4 linked regions of the Homo sapiens genome follow. The protein of the gene in region 1 purifies or fractionates together with the protein of each later gene. This does not show direct contact. Each region holds a gene or a part of one and is shown in the gene's direction. Other genes may lie near its edges.

Region 1 (2,788 bases):
GAGTGTAGTGGCATGATCTCAGCTCACTGCAACCTCCACCTCCCTGGTTCAAGTGATATTTGTGCCTCAGCCCCCTGAATAGCTAGGATTACAGGCGTGGGCCACCACGCCTGGTTAATCTCTGTATTTTTAGTAGAGGTAGAGTTTCACCATTTTGGCCAGGCTGGTTTCGAACTCCTGGCCTCAAGTGATCTGCCACCTTGGCCTCCCAAAGTGCTGGGAATACAGGCGTGAGCCACTGTGCCCGCCCTGATGAGATATTTTATTACCAATGTTAGTATTGAGAAACTGAAATGTTTGAAGAAGCACAACCCAGGATCGTGCTGGTAGCACCACAGTACTTAAACTGTTGGTCAATTAAGGCCAGAAAGGGAAATTGTTAATTTAGCTCTGGTGCTTTGGTTTACAGGAACATAACTCTTAACTGACATCTGACATCATGATAGCCATATGTGCTCAGCTCTGGGTAGAGTTTCTGCAGTTACTCATCTGAACTAATGAACAATAACTGACCACTAGTCACTTTATGCCGTGTAACTAGCTCTAGGCCATACTTTCACTGGTTACTGGTGTGAAAGCTGAAATTCATTTTGTTACATTCTGGTGAAGACCCCTCTTGATAATGGGAATGTTTTAACTCTCTTGATGAAAAAATAATCTGTATTTGTGTTGATGTTCACATTTCTGTAGCACATTTCTTATCCTTTTGGTTGAATGAAAAGATCTTGTATAGGGGTGTGGAGATGGGGAGTGGGTAGAAGTGTGTGAAGGACGCTTTGCATTTGGGATCTGTTCACAAACAGCCATATGAGTGTGTTAATGAATGTCAGCCAGTTACCAACCCTGCTGGTTGTTATGGGTTGTTTTGAGAAGTTGGCAACCAGGCATCTAAGATGTTGCCTGGTACAGGCCTCTTTTCTTCCCTGAGGCCCATGACATTTCTCTGTTACTCTAGAGGGTTTCTCAGATGGCCAGTAGGCTCCTCCCTGCTTAGGGTCTCATTTCTCTGAAAAGAGGATGAACTGAAAAGCAGGTAGTTCCAGAAGCTAATTGCTGCTTTCCATCATAATTATTTTTCTTGTGAGAACATTTCTCTTTTAATTAGCTAGTGATTTTGATTAAGACTAATTCACTAAACATACCCTTCCCTCAAATCACCTCAGGTAGCAATCTGTAAGTAACTAAAAGCATTGAAAAACACACAAGAAACATTTTTAAAAACTATTTTTAAAGGCCTGGCCGGGTGCAGTGGCTCACTCCTGTAATCCCAGCACTTTGGGAGGCCGAGACGGGTGGATCACCTGAGGTCAGGAATTTGAGACTAGCATGGCCAACATGGTGAAACCCCGTGTCTACTAAAAATACAAAAATTAGCTGGGCGTGGTGGCAGACGCCTGTAATCCCAGCTACTCAGGGAGGCTGAGGCACGAGAATCGCTTGAACCTGGGAGGCGGAGGTTGCAGTGAGCCAAGATTGCGCCACTGCACTCCAACCTGGGTGACAAGAGCAAGACTCCGTCTCACAAAAAACAAACAAAACTGACTGATTGAATATACTAAACCAAACTAAAATCATATTCTTTTGATTAAGTTTATCCATGGCTGTATTCTTCTATGAATTCTTCCATTTAATTCTTCCACGATTATCTTCTCCTGTAAATACATCACAGGAGTTAGAATTCTCTACCCATCAGCTGTACCATGTCGCAGAATTCATGCAGGCACAAAGTTGGAGTTACAGAGATGGGTTGACAGCAGGCAAACTTGGCCTATGTATTATAACCACAACTTCAAGTTCTTACCTCATGTGAATATTCACCCTTTCTTTAGTCTTCCAAGGCAAACAGCCCCGTCTCATCACCAGATGAGCAAGGTCTTGATATGGCATAGCAGATCTCCCTAGACACAGATCATGAGAAAAGATGGAAGAGACTTAGGGATTCAGGCATCAGATGAAGTTGGCTTTTCCCTTTTATGCCTTGTTTGTATTTACCCTGTCTAATACACTAAGGATACTTACTCATTGTACTTGCAGCTCAATATGTCTTTGCTGTTCAGATACTAAAATGTACCTCTGAGTCATTGTGAGCTGTGTGGTAGGTTGGACATTGGCATAGTTGGTGATGGGACTCAAAATGAAAAGGTGGTCTCTTTACCAGGTCACAGACTGTAGCAGATTGTGCTTGTTATCTGACAATGACTGTCACTTTGAGGGTCGTTGATTTGCATGCACTACTCTGGGGCCTTGTATTGGAGCCTTTTTTAAAAAAAATAAAATCTGAGATAGAGGTTGGGGGTGTGTGTGTCTGTGTGCACATGTGTTACAAGTGAGAATCATCAGATGACATCCCTTCTCCTTTCTTGATGACAACCATCTGAGTATCAGAATAGTTCCAGCACCTGTGTTGTTTGTCTGGTTAAGGCCTCTGGAAAAAATGAAGGTCACTGGGTTCTGAACAGGGGATAGATACGGGTTCCAGTTCTGCCCTTATTCCCAGTTATTCCTGCAGTGCTGGTTAAATGAACAGTTTTACAGAAGTATAGTGCAGATCCCTTAATGATCCTATCATCCCAGTTTCACACTGGAAGAAACTGAGGCTCAGAGATTGAGGAACCTTGTGACTGCCATCTGTGCCAGTCACCACCTCTGCATGACCACATTTCCCTCCATTAGCACTACCAGCATGCCTGTGAGGTAGTTACTCAGCTGTTCATCTGACCCCAGACGTAGAAAAGTTAAGAGAGATTAGCCTGGCTTAGGCCACACAGCCAGTCAGTGGTGGAATGAG
Region 2 (3,500 bases), on another chromosome or scaffold:
ATAGCAGATTAACTCACTTTCTGGGTAAATTAAGGCAAGACTTAAATGCCTCCATTTCGTCTGTAGAGCAGGGATGGTAGCATGATACTTATACAGCCACACGTATGATTACATATGTAATATATTTTGTGAATTTTAGAGCATCTAAATAGCCACTATAAGCACAGTATTGAATTATTAAAGCATTTTGGAAGGAATAATTCTGTTACAGGAGGGCTTTGAAAAGATACTAATTCAGATGGAAGATGAATACATACCTTTTTTTGCACATTTTGGAATTTTGTTGACAGTTTGGTAACCCGTTTTGGCCTCTGGTTTAGAGAAACATATTGTGCACTAGTCTCAGTTCTTGCATACATCACATACATCTGTTTCCTTTACTTTCTTTTCTTTTTAGTTGTTGATATAAGACCCTCAGTAATTACCTGAGTTTTTGATGCTTTTTTGGATGGGTTGTTTTTTTGTTTTTTTTTTTTTTTAATTTTGAACCATTCCATCTTCTCTGTCTTTCTCTATCTTTTTATCCTTTTTCGCCTTTCTTCCCCCACCACCTGGGAGCCATGAGGCAAGGGAGGAAGGTGGTTGCCTTCTTTTGCCCTCTGAATTTGAACCTTCTGAAGAAGTAGACCTCCCCTGGAGGAAAGAATCCTGAAAATAGCAGTGCGCTTTCACTAAATTTCTATGCTGTGAAAAGTGCAGAACTGTATTTATGAAAAAAAAAATATATATATATATATATATATGTGTAAATGTTCTAATTTTAACACTTGGCTAACAAGCAATGTGACCTCCTATGTCAAGAGGAGACATTTACCCAAAGGATCATTTCTCCTTCCCCTCCCTCCCATGAGTAGCCATGAAGAGTCTGTGTTTGGGTTTCTAGGGGCTGCAGTCTGTCTGAGGATGGGGGCATGCTGGCCCAGTGTCAAGGCCTGTCAAAAGAAGTGACCGAGCTCAGTCAGGAAGAGAAGAAATTAGATGAACTGATCCAAAGCTGCACCCTGGACCTCAAACTGTTAACCGAGGATTCAGAGAATCAAAGATATCCTTTGTGCCGCCAGTTCTCTGGGGGTTAGTGCTTCCTAGACTATTTCCAGAGTTGACAATCTGACTTATGCACAAGGTAGATTATTATTCTGATGTCATGCAAATGAGTACCTGTGTGCCTGTGTGTGTATGTGTGTGTGTGTGCACGTGTGTGTGTAAACCCAGTTAGCTTTGCCTAAAAAGTCAGTATTTATGGTAAGATAGTCACCAACTCGATCCTATTATTATCTATTTTGATACCAGGTGGGAACTGTTTTTTAAAGCATTTTTTCATGTGTGGTTGAGACATGGGTATACTCGTAGCGTAAGGCCACACTATTAAAAGATACATAAGGTGTCGGTATTAATATTAATGACAACACTAAGCAGATTCGTCTTTGGCTTCCCAGATTTTTGGTGGGTGTTAGCTGTCACTGTTGGGGTTCTCACATTCTATTTTCTTCTCACCAGATATCGTAGCAATTGAAATTGGTTGAATCTATCTGATTGGGCTATAGTTGAAGGGTTTGAAAGAGTAGAGAAAAATCATACTATAACTCTTAAAGTGCATTCTGCTGATTCCCAATGAAAAAACTGATTTCAAAAGCACCCCAAGACCTGAGAAACCCCTCTCAATTCCTCTGTTCCACTACAAACATTAGTCCTCGCAAATAAAAATACAAAAGGTCAGTTCTTGTTCTCAACTTCCTGACAATCTATTGACGATCTCAGGAAAACTTGCTCTTCATCATCTCACTACAGACAAAGTAAGAGAGAGATTGCCTCATTATGTCAAACAAGACTTGCCAATATTCTCAGTTATTAGAAGACAAAAAACAGTACTGTAAGTTATCCCATCTCTAGTTTTAGTTCCAAACTTCTGATGATTGCACATTTACCATTATTTGACAAAAACTAAAAAGTGTTCTGCCCAGATTCTTCTAGTGTCTCATCTTTAACAGGCTCCCCCTTGGAGAATATGGAGATATTTATTTTCTTCCAATGTTGGCAGTTTTTCAAACCTGCAATTGTTCATTTCCTGTTGACCAAAGAATTAACCTTGTCAGCCGATAATTAGTGAGATGGAAGAGAGGCGTAGTGATTTGGACCCCCAGTGGTTGGCAGAGTGGGTTTACAGGGGAAGAAACCAACAGTTGGGCTGTTTCATTCATTGTTTGGTTGGGAGCCCCATTGTGGAAGAGATGGGTGGTTACATGTGATTGGCAGCCTTCCGGGACATGTGGCTTATGGCATTGTCACCTATATTAGCTCTCTCTGGGGCCTTTGTTGCAGAAAATGAAAGCTTCCTTGCAGGGAACTTCGAACCCAAGGAGTAAATTCAGGAGGGAGCCACAAAGGAAGCACTTTTAAGTTTGTAAGATTAGAAAATACATTTGCACAATTTATTTCAGTTCACCATTCAGTTCCCAAATTGGTACAGCTTGTTCACAAATGTGTTGAAATTTTCCTTCCTGCAGCATGTTGAGTAATCGTAGATGAGTTTTTCTTTTACACTTGATCTTAGCCAAAAGGCCAAGAAGTGATGAGTTTTTATTTTAATAAGTTCTTGTCATACAGCTTTTTGACAGTGAGCTGTAGTGTAAGTACCTGGTTGTCAGTTTTTTCCAGTGTTCTCAGTAAAAAATCAGAACTGCCTGGCCCTCTATAAAGGCATCCGTTGACTTCTTTGATGGGTTATGTAGTGACCTAAAACCCAGAATCCTGCAAGAGCAGCCACTACAAGCTCAACACTGAATTAGCCATCATCTCAACTGTAAAGATTTGAAGGAGATAGTCTGTGATAGATCCCCTACATGTGTATGCAGATTTCGTGTGAATGTGCTTTCTTTCTGGAGTAGTAGTTCCATAGCTGCATTCAGTTTCTAATAAGAAGCTACTACAGCCAGGCACGGTGGCTCATGCCTGTAATCCCAGCTACTCGGGAGGCTGAGGCAGGAGAATCACTTGAACCTGGGAGACAGAGGTGGCAGTGAGCTGAAATCGTGCCACTGCACTCCAGCCTTAGTGACAGAGTGGGAGTCCGTCTCAAAAAAAAAAAAAAAAAGAAGCTACTATCGTAAGGGACATGATTTATTCTAGGGTCTCTAAGCCCCCCCTTTTTTTTATATTAAACATATTAGATCACGGACTCTATTAGCCATTAAATACGTTATACTACCTGCTGAAATGCCTTCATTGGTTTGTTACTTGCTGTTTTATCCTAGGAATTTTTTGTGGGTACATATAAAAAATAATAACGGGCTAAAGACATTGTACATTAATTGAATACTTTTGTCATATCGTAAGTACCATATTCTTTCATGATAGCCTTTTAGGCTTGGCTGTCAGGACATTTAAAAGAATGGTTCAGTGCTTAGAAAAAATGACCAAGGCCGGGCGCCGTGGCTCACACCTGTAATCCCAGCACTTTGGGAGGCCGGAGGCAGGCAGATCACTTGAGTCCAGGAGTTCAA
Region 3 (4,023 bases), on another chromosome or scaffold:
TACCCCGGGCCGCAACCGCCCCCCTGCTCCCCGGTGAGCCGCGCGTCGGTGGGGACCACGGGCCGCAGACAGCCGGTCCGACGCTGTGGCCTCTCGCACCGGACGCGGGTGCCAGGCCCGGCTGGCGCGGAAGTCGGCAGCTCCATCTCGCCAGCTTTCGCGTCCCGTTGCCGAGGTCCACTTTGCCCAGGCTGGCTAGAGCACTGTCCTTGATCCGCGCGTCCCAGCGACCCCTGGCCGGGCACCCGACCCGCCAAAGGACCCCGATCTTGGCAGCCAACCTAATTTCTTCAGAGCCGCTACCCTGGGGCCACCACTCCCTCCTAGCGCCCCTCACTGCAAACCCTAGGAGGCCCGGGTCTTGCCCACTGCTCCTGCCCCTGCCCGGGGACCCCTTTTCCAGCCTTAGTTGTCCTCTAAACTCTCGGTCGCCTGAACCCAGGCCTGACCTTCCTTGTCGTCCCAGTGTCCCCCATTCTCGATCCCGGGGCCCCAACCTCCCATCGGCTCAGTCCCCCGCCCAATCTCTGCCAGGCCCGGAGCTTTCCCAGACCCCTCACCCACACTCCAGGCTCACTCCCCGTTCCTGGGCCTGGGCCCCCCTTGCACGAGTCCAGGGCCAGCCGTCCTCGCCTTCTGCCCGCCCCCGTCCTTCGTTCCTGGGAGCCGGCCCTCTCCGCGGACCAAGCGGCCCCGAGCAGGCGCCGCCGCCCGGGGGACTCCGACTCAGCCCCCGCGACCTACCTCGGCCGACAGTCGGGGGTTCCCAAGCGGCCACTCCCGGCCGGCGCCGTCCCCTGGCGGAGCCGCCGCGCTCCCTGCCGTCCGCGCAGTCTGGCCTCGCTCGGGGCCACTCCTCGTAGCGCTGGAGCTTTACAAAATATTAATAATAAAGAAGGCAGAGGAGAAAAAAGAAAGCCTTCGCTCCCCAACTCCCAAATCAATTTTTCAAGGGGGTGGAGCAGAGGGATTTGTTTCGAAGACGATCAAAACTTCTGCGAGGGGCCCGCGGGGCGGCCGGGCCGGGGAGCCGGGGCCTGAGCTCGGGGCCAGGCGCGGCGCGGGGCGCGGGCCAGGGGCGCGGAGCCCCGGGGCGCGCGGGGGGGCGGGACGGCACTATTTGACGTGGAGCCGGCGGCGCATCCCGGCGCAGGGATACCGGCCGCGGGGTTCAAATGTCAGGAAGTTTCGGGAGGTGAGGCGGCCCGTATCCCTCCGCCGCCAGCCCCAGCTCTAAACCCGGCGGCTCAGCGGGCGCACCATGGCACTGGAGTAGCGCGGGGAGCGCGCCCGGAGCCCCGCGGCCCGCTGCGCCCCGCCCGGGACCCCGCTGCGCCGCGCGCCCCCCCCGCGGCCCGCGGGGCCGCCCCTGCACCCCCACCCCCTCCCCCGCCTGCCGCCGCCGCCACCGCCACCGCCGCCGCCGCCTCCTCCCCGCGGCTCCGTCTGCAGCAGCCGCCGCCGCCGGGTTCCGGGACTGACAAGCAGGTGACAGAGGAGCCGGCGCGCGTGGCTGCAAGTGTCCGGGAGAGCGCGGCGCGGGCTGCAGCCGCCCCGGCCCGCCCGCACGACGCCGGGGCCCGGGGCCAGCGCGTCGCCGCTCCACGATCGCCGGGGGCCGGCGCAACCCCTGCCCTGCGGGGGCCGCGCCTCCCCGGTTCCAGGGCCGCGGCGGCGGAGAGCGGGTGGACGGGCCGGCGGGCGAGCAGCCCGGCCGGCGGGGTCCGCAGCGCGCCCCGCGTCCCATGGATATAGCAACAGGTCCCGAGTCGCTGGAGAGGTGCTTCCCTCGCGGGCAGACGGACTGCGCCAAGATGTTGGACGGCATCAAGATGGAGGAGCACGCCCTGCGCCCCGGGCCCGCCACTCTGGGGGTGCTGCTGGGTGAGTGCGGGGTCGGAACGCCCGAGTGGTCTCGGGCGTGGGATGGGGCGTCGTCCGGCTGTGGACACGGGCGTTGGGGCCAACGGATAAAGGAAATGGGTTTGCAGGACATGGGGAGGAGGCAGAGACAGGACTCCTGGAGTGATCGCCAGAGGGCCGCAAGTACGCCTCCGGCAGGCGTCCTGAGGGGACAGGACAGCTCCAGTCGCCACCCACCATCCTTTCCAGGCTTAGGTTCTAGAGCTGCCACTCCGATGTGGTAGGTGGCGGGTGGCAGGGGTGATGGAGGACCTAGCAATCACCTTGGCGAGCTTGGGAGAGGCGCAAGGTCACCTGGGGTGGGGGAGATTCTAAGAGAAAAACGTCTCCCTGGTCACTCAAACCACAGATTTTGGGGAGATCGGGGATAGAAGACCACGAACGCCACCGTGGGGCGTGTCAGCCAGCGAGCGCCCCAGCCTCACCTCGCCTGTCTTGGTCCCAGCCGGCCACCCTGCGCCGTGCTCGTTGTCATTTGTCTTAACACGGAGCGCGGATTCTCCGGAGAAGGGGAGAGCACAGCGCCGAGCCAAGGCTCGAGGCCCGCGGCCTCTCCACGCCGGAGCCCGAGGACTGGGACGGACTAGCCGGGGCCGCCCGGCCCCTGGCGCGGCGGTCCGGGGAGCGCAGGCGGCAGGCGGTGATCCCGGGCGGCCCGAGCCCTCGGGGCCGAGGGCTGTGGGCCCGGTGCGACCGGGACGCCGGGGCTGGGCCGGGCGGCGCTGACGGCCGGGCTTTCGCCCTGTGCGCTACAGGCTCCGACTGCCCGCATCCCGCCGTCTGCGAGGGCTGCCAGCGGCCCATCTCCGACCGCTTCCTGATGCGAGTCAACGAGTCGTCCTGGCACGAGGAGTGTTTGCAGTGCGCGGCGTGTCAGCAAGCCCTCACCACCAGCTGCTACTTCCGGGATCGGAAACTGTACTGCAAACAAGACTACCAACAGTAAGCGCTTCTCGTCCTCCTTCCCCGCCACCGCCCGGCACTCGAGCCCGGTCAGCCCCCTGCCGGGCCCGGCCCGCGCCCGCTCTGCCGCCGGCTCTGTGCGCGGCTGGGCCGGGCAGCTCCAAGGGTTCCGAGAGCTGCGCGTCTTGGGGCTGGGGCGGACCAGCCCAGCCCAGCGGGCACTGATGGGGTCCTGGGAGCCTCCGGACGGCCCCCAGTTGCCATCCGTTGTCCCGGAATCCTGCGCTGGGCCGGCCGAGGGATTTGGTGCCTGGGTCCTGGGATATAGGGTCTGGCGCTACGGAGGCCTGAATTGGGAACCCAAAATTGATTTCCAAAGGAAAATAATGTTTTAGGGAGCCAGGCCTGGCGGACTGCTTCAAGGGCCTGGTGTGTGGGGGTTTGGGATTCCTGGAGCCTGGAGCCAGGAGCCAGGAGGTGGAGTGCTGGGACACTGAACGGCCTGAGCGGCAAGGGAGGCCCCCTTTCTGCCAGGCTCACTGCTGCACTTTTAGTCCCTGATGGAGAGAAAAGAATGTCCATATTCCCCAAACCGTTCCATGCGGGAATTTTGCACTTGCAGTTTTCTTTGGTTGGAGAAGCACTCTAGGAAGAGGATCTCAAAAGGTGGCAAGTTACAATTTGGGGCTCCCAATGGGAGTGAGGAGCTGACTGAGTCAGCCCTTCCCACAAGGCCTCCTTTCTGGTAGTGTGTATTGAGGAGGGAGATGGCCCGCTCTGCCCTGGTATAACCCAAACCTCAGGGCTGAGGCCAGAGATGTGGGTTGAGCCCTTCTTGCTAACTAGTTTTTAGCTGAGACTGGATTTGTATGGCCGGGGTTGGGGACAGACAACAGGACATGCAGGCTTTTTCTTTTGACCTCCTGGGTTTTCTGCCTGGCACTGCAATTGGGAGGGAGGCAGTGAGGAGCCACAACTGAAAGAGGGGTGTGGAGATCCCCAAAGCTCTGTTGCAGACACAGCGGGTGCCTGCGAAAACTTTAGTGATGCCAGAAAACCGTCCTGGATGAGGCTGCAGAGCGGGTAGGCTGCTTAGGTGGTTTGGTGCTCAGAGAGGGCTGTGTATGCCCAAGCCTCCAGGGAAGGAAAAGCTGGGCTGCCGGCGCCTCGTGGTGAGTGCAACCTACCTGTTCTGCC
Region 4 (3,500 bases), on another chromosome or scaffold:
TCTGAGTAGCTTCTAACCAGCACATAACTCCCCCAACAGTCTTTAAGTCTTTAGGTGCCCATATTTTCCTCTTTGTTCTCCCCCTTCAGACTGAGAGTTTGTAGAGAGAGGGCAACAGATCTTTTCAATACACAACTAATGCAAAATGTATCAGGTTTTTCTTGGATTTCAGCTACTCCCTGTTAAACAATCAGAGCTTAGTGAACAGTGATTCAGTGAGGAGGGAAAGCACTCAGGAAGGAGCAGGAACAAGTACAAGTTTATGAAAAGGATTAGCTAGCAAAACAAGGTCAAACTCTGCAATAGTTTGTTTTCCTCTCCCTAGTATCCCTCTTCAATCAGAAAAGAGACTGTTATCAGTTGCTGGTGTTATGACTGGGCACATCCGCCCTGGGTCAAATATGCTGCAGTCTGCAAAGCCAGCAGCAGATTGCAGTCCTCTGCAGTCCAGCCAGGCCAGCAGAACTTGTGTAGCCATGTGCCCTGTTATAGCTGTAATACTGAATTGGGAATGTTCCCTTAATGGGGCACTTGAGGGCAAAAGCAGTGAAAGCTTTTCCTTTCTCAAAGCAGACTGTTCTTCCCGTAGTGTTTTAAGAACACAGACATGTATTGGGCAAGGCAAAGCCAAAGGTGGCCTTTACAAGATTATTAAATCTGGTCTTCCAGGGTATCTAATCTGTGTGAGGACCCTGATGAACTAATTTTCTTCTAAAGTGCTATATATGTAGATATCATCATAGAGTTACACATGAAATGGCTCATTCAATACTTTTTTAGATGCCTGGAAATATTTAAGGGAGTAACTAATCAATTAGCAGCATTCCTGGGAGAACATTGTCTTGTCATTTTAACAGAAAACTCTCTTTGTGATTTTGCAGCCACGACAGCCCAACCCTGACTGGCGTTACTCTGCCTCCCTGAGAGCAGGCATGCACAGGTATGTATTTCCCTCCTCATTCACTCAGAAGTAACCTTAACTTGGTATGGCTCAGATAAACTGCATCTCCATAGGCCAGAAGCAGCTGTCAAAACTAAAAAGCTTTAGGTACTTTGCCAGGAAAATGCAATTATTTTGTCCCCATGTTTATTCCTTGAAAGATCGCAAATGGTCAGTGCCAGATGCTTATCAAGTGCTGGCATATAAGAGTCCTCTGTAAAATCACAGAAACAGGCTGCTATGTATTTTCTCCCATCAAAATTTCTACAGGGAAGTAATTTCAACCTCCTTCATCCCTCTCTACCTATGCTTTCTTTTCCTCCTTTAAAAACTGTAATTAATACTCATGCTTTGAGACTTGGGTACATTGTGCAATGTATACATACATGTTGTCTACCTTGTTTTTTTTTTAATCTCACATTGGCTATTACATCCTATTACCCTCAATAATTGATTGCTATTGTTGTTTGTGTTCACACCTATTAGAGCCTCCTCATCTTTCCCATCTGTTGCTATCTTATTGTCATCAATGACATGGTTCTTCAGAAGATGAGCCATGTAAAGGGCTCCAAATCTAGCTTACTTTAAATTAACCTAGAGTAACGGTATTAGTCTAAGACTCAGATTAAATATAATTTTGCTTTCTCTACTTTGTCTCTCTGACAGTAATTGATTAACTACCATTATTTCTGGAGGTGATCCAGTATCCATGCCATGGGGCCAAATAAAAGATTCATTATTTGCGAATGTCTTTGGAAACCAAATGGGAAGGACCAAGAAACAAATGATCACAACTATCAAAAGGATTTAATTTTAAAGAAGAAATAATCTTCAAACTTAAGCCCCTCAAAATATCTGGGCAACTATCAAGTGAATATTCACCAAACTTAGATCAGTTCGTAAAGAGAAAGCCTACAAAGTATGTGTAGAGTTAATGTGAAATTAGTTTTAGCCCATTAAAATGCATTAGATTGAAATAAATTAACATACTCTCAAGCATTACAAATGAGCAGAAATCATTACATTGGGTGCTATTTCTGATTCAGAAGCAATCAGTGAAGGGCTGAAGATTAGTAGTTGGCTTGGTAAGATGTCACATTGGAACCTGGGTCATAATTTTAGGCCAGAAACATTCATGCATATACCAGAATATTAGGTATCAGAAGAAATTCTTTATATTTATTAGAGACCAACTTGTGCTTTTGCCTGCATCTGAGCTGTTGGTGGAGACATGCAATGGGTAAAAGCATGGTTTACAGTACCAACTCTTGAAAAGTACCAAAGCTATGAGTTGTGCCTTAAAAACTACATTTGAAATAAAACATTAAAACATAACTTCCTGGACTGGGCGCGGTGGCTCACACCTGTAATCCCAGCACTTTGGGAGGCCGAGGTGGGCAGATCATGAGGTCAAGAGATCGAGACCATCCTGGACAACACGGTGAAACCCTGTCTCTACTAAAAATACAAAAATTAGCTGGGCGTGATGGCATGTGCCTGTAGTTCCAGCTACTAGGGAGGCTGAGGCAGGAGAATCGCTTGAACCCGGGAGGCGGAAGTTGCAGTGAGCCAAGATCGAGCCACTGCACTCCAGCCTGGCGACAGTGCGAGACTCTGTCTCAGAAGAATAAATAAATGAATAAAATAACATAACTTCCTTATCCCATTTTCAAATTGAAAAAAAAAAGCCAAATGTGCTCCTATTCGGGTTTCAATTAAGATATTATGAGATTTGAGTAGGGTAAGAAATAAAATAAAAATTGAAATTAAAATGCCATTTCTTTTTTGCATTGTAATACATTGAACATATTAAATGAGTTGTGAACCTAAATAATACTAATCTTTTTCGTATGTGTGCTTGGGTGTTCTCGGTCTTTCCAGTCTTGGACATCATGTAACTATTCTTTAAAAAATTCTGCTTTGAGCTGAGCTGGCTCCAGGATAGTTACACCTTCATGAATCTGACTGAGCCCACACAATTTGCTAGTAGGATCCAGGAACACTTGAAGGCTGTTAATATTTGGGGAAAAAAAACAGATAATTCTAGAGTGTAGACAAGGGGAAGAATAGTAAAAGGTCAGAGTTTAATGAGTGAATTTCTACTGGATATGTTGTTTGAAGTCAAAGAGTGAGAAAACATTGAACTTATATGTTGCCTTCCCTCTAATAGTTCAAGTTTGCCTGCTCTGTTGCCTCATATAACCCCTTTAGTCAGTAGTCTAAATTTTATTTTAGAAATTTAACTTTCAAGATAAGCAAATGTCTAGTTTAAAAGGGTCCTCTAGTCTAGGTGTAGTGGCTCATGCCTGTAATCCCAGCACTTTGGGAGGGTGAGGCAGGTGGATCACTTGAGGTCAGGAGTTCAAGACCAGCCTGGTCAATATGGTGAAAACCTGTCTCTACTAAAAATACAAAAATGAGCCAGGCATGGTGGCGGGTGCCTGTAGTCCCAGCTACTTGGGAGGCTGAGGCAGGAGAATTGCTTGAACCTGGGAGGCAGAGGTTGCAGTGAGCTGAGATCGTGCCACTGTACTCCAGCCTGAGTGACAGAGTGAGGCTT

What was found. The genes of interacting proteins can lie anywhere in the genome.
Region 2: the proteins of RBSN (region 1) and E2F3 purify together in Homo sapiens (pull-down; one large-scale study listed by IntAct). This does not show direct contact.
Region 3: the proteins of RBSN (region 1) and LMX1B purify together in Homo sapiens (affinity purification with mass spectrometry; 2 studies listed by BioGRID and IntAct, with this or other methods). This does not show direct contact.
Region 4: the proteins of RBSN (region 1) and PCDHA4 purify together in Homo sapiens (affinity purification with mass spectrometry; 2 studies listed by BioGRID and IntAct, with this or other methods). This does not show direct contact.

The regions. Positions count from the first base shown.
Region 1 is NC_000003.12:15,069,573-15,072,360, reverse strand, and holds the end of RBSN (rabenosyn-5), read left to right. Parts: 3' UTR 1-2,288; downstream 2,289-2,788. UniProt on the Homo sapiens protein: Rab4/Rab5 effector protein acting in early endocytic membrane fusion and membrane trafficking of recycling endosomes. Required for endosome fusion either homotypically or with clathrin coated vesicles.
Region 2 is NC_000006.12:20,481,879-20,485,378, forward strand, and holds part of E2F3 (transcription factor E2F3), read left to right. Parts: intron 1-883; coding exon 884-1,042; coding exon of another isoform or gene 1,043-1,071; intron 1,072-3,500.
Region 3 is NC_000009.12:126,612,705-126,616,727, forward strand, and holds the start of LMX1B (LIM homeobox transcription factor 1-beta), read left to right. Parts: upstream 1-1,223; 5' UTR 1,224-1,745; coding exon 1,746-1,884; intron 1,885-2,678; coding exon 2,679-2,865; intron 2,866-4,023. UniProt on the Homo sapiens protein: Transcription factor involved in the regulation of podocyte-expressed genes. Essential for the specification of dorsal limb fate at both the zeugopodal and autopodal levels.
Region 4 is NC_000005.10:140,978,068-140,981,567, forward strand, and holds part of PCDHA4 (protocadherin alpha-4 isoform 1 precursor), read left to right. Parts: intron 1-881; coding exon 882-940; intron 941-3,500. Other genes in the region: PCDHA1 (protocadherin alpha-1 isoform 1 precursor), read left to right, coding at 882-940; PCDHA2 (protocadherin alpha-2 isoform 1 precursor), read left to right, coding at 882-940; PCDHA3 (protocadherin alpha-3 isoform 1 precursor), read left to right, coding at 882-940; PCDHA5 (protocadherin alpha-5 isoform 1 precursor), read left to right, coding at 882-940; PCDHA6 (protocadherin alpha-6 isoform 1 precursor), read left to right, coding at 882-940; PCDHA7 (protocadherin alpha-7 isoform 1 precursor), read left to right, coding at 882-940; PCDHA8 (protocadherin alpha-8 isoform 1 precursor), read left to right, coding at 882-940; PCDHA9 (protocadherin alpha-9 isoform 1 precursor), read left to right, coding at 882-940; PCDHA10 (protocadherin alpha-10 isoform 1 precursor), read left to right, coding at 882-940; PCDHA11 (protocadherin alpha-11 isoform 1 precursor), read left to right, coding at 882-940; and 4 more. UniProt on the Homo sapiens protein: Calcium-dependent cell-adhesion protein involved in cells self-recognition and non-self discrimination. Thereby, it is involved in the establishment and maintenance of specific neuronal connections in the brain.